Regions from separate parts of the Homo sapiens genome. Here regions 1 and 3 are each linked to region 2. Evidence: fine-mapped expression QTL. A gene starts in region 2. Each other region holds a variant in brackets. All regions are shown on one strand. Distances are from middle to middle.

What was found.
Region 1: its variant is fine-mapped to the expression of FKBP10 in lymphoblastoid cells (TwinsUK, PIP 0.95).
Region 3: its variant is fine-mapped to the expression of FKBP10 in whole blood (TOPMed, PIP above 0.99).

The regions. Positions count from the first base shown.
Region 1 is chr17:41,865,878-41,868,720 of GRCh38, forward strand. It overlaps ACLY (ATP citrate lyase), which reads right to left. Exons shown (of 29, transcript NM_001096.3): 28 at 2,832-2,843; 29 at 1,041-2,027. The coding sequence ends at 1,933. Among named protein-coding and RNA genes, the nearest start is that of KLHL11, 1.9 kb to the left of the region's middle. RefSeq lists enhancers at 1-230, 231-731. The variant T/TA (reference allele first, on the strand shown) is at 1,487.
Region 2 is chr17:41,811,891-41,814,733 of GRCh38, forward strand. It overlaps FKBP10 (FKBP prolyl isomerase 10), which reads left to right and starts at 1,114. Exons shown (of 10, transcript NM_021939.4): 1 at 1,114-1,389. The coding sequence starts at 1,145. P3H4 (prolyl 3-hydroxylase family member 4 (inactive)) reads right to left here and starts at 59. Exons shown (of 8, transcript NM_006455.3): 1 at 1-59. The coding sequence starts at 25. RefSeq lists a silencer at 1-178 and an enhancer at 319-428.
Region 3 is chr17:41,861,268-41,863,767 of GRCh38, forward strand. The region is part of intron 1 of KLHL11 (kelch like family member 11); the gene reads right to left. Among named protein-coding and RNA genes, the nearest start is that of KLHL11, 2.9 kb to the right of the region's middle. RefSeq lists an enhancer at 2,087-2,500. The variant G/A (reference allele first, on the strand shown) is at 1,396.

The DNA.
Region 1 (2,843 bases), 54 kb after region 2:
TTGTTTTTTTTTTTTTTGAGACGGAGTCTCGCTCTGTCGCCCAGGCTGGAGTGCAGTGGCGCGCTCTTCGCTTATTGCAACCTCCGCTGCCCGGGTTCAAGCGATTCTTGTGCCTCAGCCTCCCGAGTAGCTGGGACTACAGGCGCCCGCCACCACTCCAGGCTAATTTTTTTTTTTTTTTTTTTTTTGAGACGGAGTCTCGCTCTGTCGCCCAGGCTGGAGTGCAGTGGCGCGCTCTTCGCTTATTGCAACCTCCGCCGCCCGGGTTCAAGCGATTCTTGTGCCTCAGCCTCCCGAGTAGCTGGGACTACAGGCGCCCGCCACCACTCCAGGCTAATTTTTTTTTTTTTTTTTTTTTTGAGACGGAGTCTCGCTCTGTCGCCCAGGCTGGAGTGCAGTGGCGCGGGTCTCGGCTCACTGCAACCTCCGCCTCCCGGGTTCACGCCATTCTCCTGCCTCAGCCTCCGGAGTAGCTGGGACTACAGGCGCCCGCCACCATGCCTGGCTAAGTTTTTGTATTTTTAATAGAGACGGGGTTTCACCGTGTTAGCCAGGATGGTCTCGATCTGCTGACCTCGTGATCCACCCGCCTCAGCCTCCCAAAGTGCTGGGATTACAGGCATGAGCCACCACGCCTGACCGTAGATGAGCATTTTTAAAACCATATATACTGAAACTATTAGTACAGTTCAGGCCAGGCCAGGCACAGTGGCTCACGCCTGTAACAGCACTTTGGGAGGCCAAGGAGGATGGATTGCTTGAGTCCATGAGTTCCAGAAGAGCCTGGGAAATACAGCAGAACCTTATCTCCACAAAAAATACAAAAGTTAGCCTGGAGTGGTGGCATGCTCCTGTAGTCCCAGCTACTTGGGAGGCTGGAGTGGGAGGACTGCTTGAGCCCAGGAGATGGAGGCTGCAGTGAGCTGTGATGGTGCCACTGTACTCCAGCCCTGGGGCGACAGAGTGATACCCTGTCTGGAAAAAAGTACAGTTACAAAGGAATACAGATCAAAGGATATGGATGCCAGGAGCCAGCAGTATGCCTTCATTGTTACTATATAGTTTATTTAAACCAGACTATGATAATACAGAGAAGAGACTGAGGTGGCAGCTGCCCAGAATCTTTGTGGATTACAGATGCAAAGTAGTTAGGAGTCCTTGGACCCACACTTCAGTTACAGACAGACAAATCAGCTGCATAAATACAGAGAACATAAGACACAAGACATTTCACAGCTTTCTGCATTTCCATTTTAAATGTATGTATGTTACAACTTTACATATTAAGTTACTACTCCACATATTTTGTGACAATGGCTAAGGATGCAATGGCCCCATCCCCCTGACATAAACAGACTCTGGTCTGCAACACAGAACATTTCAGTGGGATACCAAACAAGCCCTTAACACGTAACATACAAAAAGATCTTTAAAAATCAGATTAATACAATGTTCTTCATGTTATATAAGGAAGAAGAAAGGGAAG[T/TA]AAAAAAAAAAAAAGAGAGACATTGGGGTGCTTTAAATGTATAGTATCTTGAGGCCATAAATGTTTCATTCCCTTCCTCCAAAGGAGAAAAAAATGTTTAACTAATGGAAAAAGAAAGCAACATCCTAACGCCCTACAATGAGGAAGACCCCATCCTGACAGTACTTAGATGCTTCCATATAATAAATACAGCAGGTAGCAGAGCAAAGTCACAAATATTGGCTTGGTTTTTATTTCTATGCTTATAAAAAAAATATGAAGCTTCTTTGTGTGGACTGAAGGGGTGTTAGCCTGTGGATGTTGGTCTTCGGTGCCTGTACCCCAGTGGCTGTTTACATTCCAGGCCCCTGCTAAATAAAGCAGGCTCCACTGCCAGCTGTCTGTACACTTTTTCTTGGGGGAAGAGATCTTGTCTTCAGTTTACTGCAGTAGGGTTCCTGGCTCTGTTACATGCTCATGTGTTCCGGAAGAACATATGAAATATCATCCCACGGATGACGATACAGCCCCTGCTTCAGCCTCTTCTGATCAAGATAGTGTCCTAAAATGAAGCAAACACATCTTTTTTATTAGAGCTTCATAAGCCTGGTGAGAGGAAGAGGCTAAGGAAGGGAAATCTTTCTAACACACAAAAAAAGTAGACACAAAGCAGTGGGAAGTTTAGTCCAAATCCACTGTATAGGTAGATGAGGCGGACTTTGTACAAGGGAGCTGCTGGATCTGATTCTATTTTCCTTTAAATTAAAACAAAATTTTAAAGGGAAAAAATAAAATAAAATAAATAATAAAAATAGGCCGGGCACGGTGGTTCACGCCTGTAATCCCAGCACTTTGGGAGGCCGAGGTGGGCAGATCACGAGGTTGGGAGATCGAGACCATCCTGGCTAACATGGTGAAACCCCGTCTCTACTAAAAATACAAAAAATTAGCCAGGCGTGGTGGCATGCGCCTGTAGTCCCAGCTGCTTGGGAGGCTGAGGCAGGAGAATCGCTTGAACCCGGGAGGCAGAGGTTGCAGTGAGCTGAGACCGCGCCACTGCACTCCAGCCTGGTGACAGAGCAAGACTCAGTCTCAAAAAAAAAAAAAAAAATTTTCCTGGGCTAGCAATCATTTCTAAGAACAAAGGAACAATGATAAAGATAAGGGGAAAGGTTAAAGTAAGAAAGGAAAGATTAAGAACAATGATTAAGAGGATATGACATTTCTTCTGTAGAAACTGAACCACAAAAAGAAAATTAAAAAAAAAAAAAAAGAAAGAAAAAGAAACTCAACCCCATGAGTAAGTGGTGTAGCTGAACCGTGGGGTTTAAAAAAAAACACTTAAAACAACAACGAATGGACTCACCAATGAACCCCA
Region 2 (2,843 bases):
GCAGCCCCCACGCCACCCGAGCCATGCCCGCCGCGCCGCCGGCTCTCCGGAGCTGAGCTGGCTGCCCCGCGGACGGAAGGGGACAGGGCCGGGCCCCGGGCGGGCGGCGCGCCCGCTGGGTCTTAGCGCCGGGCACGAGGCGGCAAGGTGGGGCGGGGCCTGGGTCACGACGTCTCCCCTCTTTTCCCAGAGGGTCCGATAGTGTCGTTAAGTCCTCTCCGTCGGCCCGGGCTCCTGCCTTGGGGGTGTCCCCTAGGTAGAGAATGCGTCGGGGAGCGCTTCCCGCCAGAGATGGGAAGCCCAGGAAGCCCCTCCCCATGCAAACAGTGCCCCCGCCTGAGATCAGGACACTGAGTGAGGGCCGCCTCCTCTGCGCTGCCCATACGAGAAGGAAGCCCTGGAGCCGGGCCTTCCGTCGCTGCGCCCTCCTGCACCCTCCGAGTGTCTCCCCCGCCCACGTCGGAGGCACACACCTGCTGTCACCTGCACACCTTGCGCTGCCACCACCCCCCACTCCATCTCCGTGCCCGTCACATCCCAAGTCACAAAGTCCTTCTTTCAGTCCAGCTTTTGCGGGACCAAGCTGCTCTTCCCTGGAGATGCCTTCCCTTGGAGTACAGCTGGGGTCACGGATGAGCACGGAGATGCCTCTCACACTCCGCGGCTTCACCACCCACCTGGAGGGGACTAGAATTCGAAGTGCCCGCGAAAGAAGCAAGGTTCATCTCCGCCCGGCTTTAGGACCCGGGGGCTCCGGAAAAAGTCATTGAACTTTTTTTTTTTTTTTTCCTTTGGTGTCCACTCAGAGTTCTCATCTTTCCCGAGCCTCTCTCCCTGGCCAGGCCCCAGGTCTCGCAGCCAGGGATGGAGATGGGGGGAGGGGGAACCTAGAGTTCTTTGTAGTGCCTCCCTCAGACTCTAACACACTCAGCCTGGCCCCCTCCTCCTATTGCAACCCCCTCCCCCGCTCCTCCCGGCCAGGCCAGCTCAGTCTTCCCAGCCCCCATTCCACGTGGACCAGCCAGGGCGGGGGTAGGGAAAGAGGACAGGAAGAGGGGGAGCCAGTTCTGGGAGGCGGGGGGAAGGAGGTTGGTGGCGACTCCCTCGCTCGCCCTCACTGCCGGCGGTCCCAACTCCAGGCACCATGTTCCCCGCGGGCCCCCCCAGCCACAGCCTCCTCCGGCTCCCCCTGCTGCAGTTGCTGCTACTGGTGGTGCAGGCCGTGGGGAGGGGGCTGGGCCGCGCCAGCCCGGCCGGGGGCCCCCTGGAAGATGTGGTCATCGAGAGGTACCACATCCCCAGGGCCTGTCCCCGGGAAGTGCAGATGGGGGATTTTGTGCGCTACCACTACAACGGCACTTTTGAAGATGGCAAGAAGTTTGATTCAAGGTAACCCCGGTTGGGCGCCCCCGGATTCACCACTCCGTCCCCTGAACCCGGGGTCCTGTTTCCTTGTTGCCTCTTTTAAGCTCTGCATCCCAATACTCTAACCCTAGACAGCACCCCTGGGGCCTCCCAGACACCCATCTCCCCAAAGATACCCTCCTGCCCCCACTTCCAAACCCTCACTTCTCAAAGGATCCCATTTCTTTCTCACAAGCTCTCCACATCCCGGAAAGGACTCGATAATCAAGGTGAACTGCCTTGTGTAGTTACCAGGGCTGTATGTAATGACCTGATGGAGAGGGGTGTTCTGATCTACAGTGTTGGGGGGAAGGGGGTGGTCCCTGCTGCTTAAGAACCCTGGGATGGTCTATCAGCCTGGACCCCGTACCTTTCCACCCACCCTGACTCCCCTTCTGGTTCCACTGTTTTCAGTGCCTTTGTGGTCAGAGAAGAGGGAATAGAACTTTTTTTTGGAGGGGGTGGGAGTTTTCAGCGGCTGGTGGGCAGGGAAAAAGGCTGGTGGGTATTATAAGAAGACAGCCGGCTGGACCTGGGGGTAGCGCGTGGCTCCCTGCGGAGGCCCTGTCTACGTGTCACACAGTCGGACATGCCACCCTGGGCTCCTTGGAGGAATTTCATTCCTCCCTCTCTGGTTCTCCTGGAACCCTCATCTCTCTCCATTTTAGGTACACCAGGCCAGAGGCACAGGCCGCCCATTTTTGCCAGCCTTGGGGTTTGTAAGGTGGCCTCCTGGTCTGACCCAGGCCTTTGGTCTGCCCCAGCAAGTCCACTTTTGTTAGCGGGGACAGGGCAGGGCTGTATGCCAGCCTCAGGGGTAAATCTAGGGTCCCAGTTACACACAGACCCCACAGCACACTGAAAGAAGTCAGTGTTTCTTAGACCCTCCTCTGAAACACACAACTCAGCCCACAGGAAATTAGTGGCCATGACTTTAGAGGCAGGCATATATTGGGGTAAGCCTACAAACTCCAAGAGTCCCAAGACCCTGGTTCAAATCCAGGCTATGACCATGGACAGAGAATTTTGTCTCTTTAGGCATCACTTTCCTTATCTGAAAAGTGGAGACAAAAACAGGACCTACTTGCTAAGGCTGATGTTAGGACTCCAAGGACATGGATGAATGAACGTAGGCTTCTCACAGGGCCTGGCAGTCCTCCAGCCAGTTCAGCACACATTAACATTGACCCTGAGGAAAACCATATGACCTGATGCTGTGGAACTTGTAGAAACTTAATGCAGAGCTTAAGCCTTCATAACAACACTGAGAAGGAAACAGTCCAGACTTAAAACCTGTCTGCTTGGTGGGCAAATTCAGATATAGGGTAGTAGCCAGAAGTGCAGCCCTGAGCCCTTGACTGCTAGGAGTGAGGCAGGGGTTGGGATTTAGGGGATGTCATCCCTGATGGGGACTCTGGGAGCCCAGCTCATGAGTGTTG
Region 3 (2,500 bases), 49 kb after region 2:
TTCTATAACCACAGGATGGTATAAAAACTTCAGTCACCCTTAGAGTTTTCATATTTTGTATGACTCTCGAGCACAAATGTGCCTGTAATAATCTGCTATGCTTTTCTCTGTCCTATATAACCTGTCTTTTATTATAAGAATGTCAGCTGTGGCCAGGTGCGGTGGCTCACGCCTGTAATCCCAGCACTTTGGGAGGCCAAGGCGGGTCAGGAGTTCGAGACCAGCCTGGCCGATACAGTGAAACCCCATCTCTACTAAAAATACAAAAATTAGCCGAGCGTGCTGGCAGATGCCTGTAATCTCAGCTACTTGGGAGGCTGAGGCAGGAAAATCGCTTGAACCCGGCAGGCAGAGGTTGCAGTGAGCCGAGATTGCGACATTGCACTCCAGCCTGGGAAACAGAGCGAGACTCTTGTCTCAAAAAAAAAAAAAAAAAAAAAAAAAGAATGTCAGCTGTGACCCCTTTATGAGAGGGAGGAAAGGGATCACCCCTCTTCCATCCCGACAGTTCCCTTCTTGGTTGCAAGGACTTTACTCCTGCAATTATTCCCCTGCTCCTGTAACACCAATTACTCATCTTCTACTGAATCATTTTCAGCAGCACACAGACATGCTCTAGTATCTTTTACCTTGGTGGGATTGTCCCCCAAAACATTTACACGTTTCTGATCCTCTTTATAAAGCAAGGCTTAACAGCTCTTGTCAATGGCATCTCTGACCTGCAACCATCACTAATGGGTTGACAGAGTTGACACGACTGGCTACTCCCTCCTTGATATCCTTCTTTTCTACGTTTCCATGAGATCAGTCTCCTCTTTAAGATTCTTTTTTTTTTTTGAGATCCAGTCTCTCACTCTGTTGCCCAGGCTGGGGTGCAGTGGCGTAATCTCAGCTCACTGCAATCTCCACCTCCCGGGTTCAAGCAATTCTCCTGCCTCAGCCTCCTGAGTAGTTGGGATTACAGGCACCTGCCACCACGCCCTGCTAATTTTTGTATTTTTGTATTTATTTATTTTTTTTTTTGAGATGGAGTCTCACTCTGTTGCCTAGGCTGGAGTGCAGTGGCACGACCTCAGCTCACTGCAACCTCTGCCTCCTGGGTTCACGCCATTCTCCTGCCTCAGCCTCCTGAGTACCTGGGACTACAGGCACCCGCCACCATGCCTGGCTAATTTTTTTTTTTTTTGTATTTTTAGTAGAGACGGGGTTTCATCATGTTAGCTAGGATAGTCTCGATCTCCTGACCTCGTGATCTGCCCACCTCGGCCTCCCAAAGTGCTAGGATTACTGGCGTGAGCCACCGCGCCCGGCCTAATTTTTGTATTTTTAGTGGAGATGGGGTTTCATCATGTTGGCCAGGCTGGTCAAGTGATCCATCTGCCTCGGCCTCTCAAA[G/A]TGCTGAGATTACAGGCGTGAGCCACTTCGCCCAGCCGGCTATTTTACATTCTAGAGAACCCCAGGGCTCAGTCTTGCCTACTCTCTCCCCGCTGCCCCTTTTCTATGTATACTCCTTAAGTAATACCATCCAGCCCCAAGGCTTTAGTTACCATTTATACGGTAATTTTCCCCAATCTGTATCTCTAGCTCCCATGCACTTCCCAGGGATCTCCTTAACCAAATCCAAAAACTCCTGATCTTACTCCCAAACAGGCTCTTCTGCAATCTTCCACATCTTAATAATTCCATCCTTCCCATTGCTTGGGTCAAAAAGGTAGCAGTCTTTTCCCTTATACCCCACGTCAAATCCATCAGCAAATTCATCTCATCCACTTTCAAAATATATCTGGAACCAGAGCAGTTCTCATCACCTTTACTTCTCCCTCCTCAATCGAAGCCTCCACCACCACTGCCACAACCTCCTACACTAGTCTCTCTGCGTCTGCCCTTGGTGCCCCCTCCTCCCCAATGCCACATCCTTTGTTCTTTTTTTTTTTTTTTTTTGAGACAGAGTCTTGTTCTGTCCGCCAGGCTGGAGTAGAGCGGCGCAATCTCAGCTTACTGCAACCTCAGCCTCCCACCTCCCAGGCTCAAGCGATTCTTGTGTCTCAGCCTCCCCAACAGCTGGGATTACAGGCACACCACCACGCCCGGCTAATTTTTGTACGTTTAGTAGAGACAGGGGTTTCACAATGTTGGCCAGGCTGGTCTCGAACTCCTGACCTCAAGCATCCACCCACCTCGGCCTCTCAAAGTGCTGAGATTACAGGCGTGGGCCACCGCGCCTGGCCGCCACATCCTTTTTTCAGCACAGCACTATTCATCAAATCAGACTGCATCATTCCTCTGCCCCAAACCTTCCCATTTCAATCAGAGTAAAAGCTCATGTCCTTCCACAGGCCATCAAGGCCCTACGGGATCTGGATCCCTGCCCATTACCATCCTGGGGCTTCTCCTGTTCCTCTCATCCTGCATCCCTTTGATACAGCCACACTGGCTCCCCACTGTTCTCTAACATACAAGCTCCACCTCAGAGCCTCTGTACCTGTGTCCCCTACCTGAC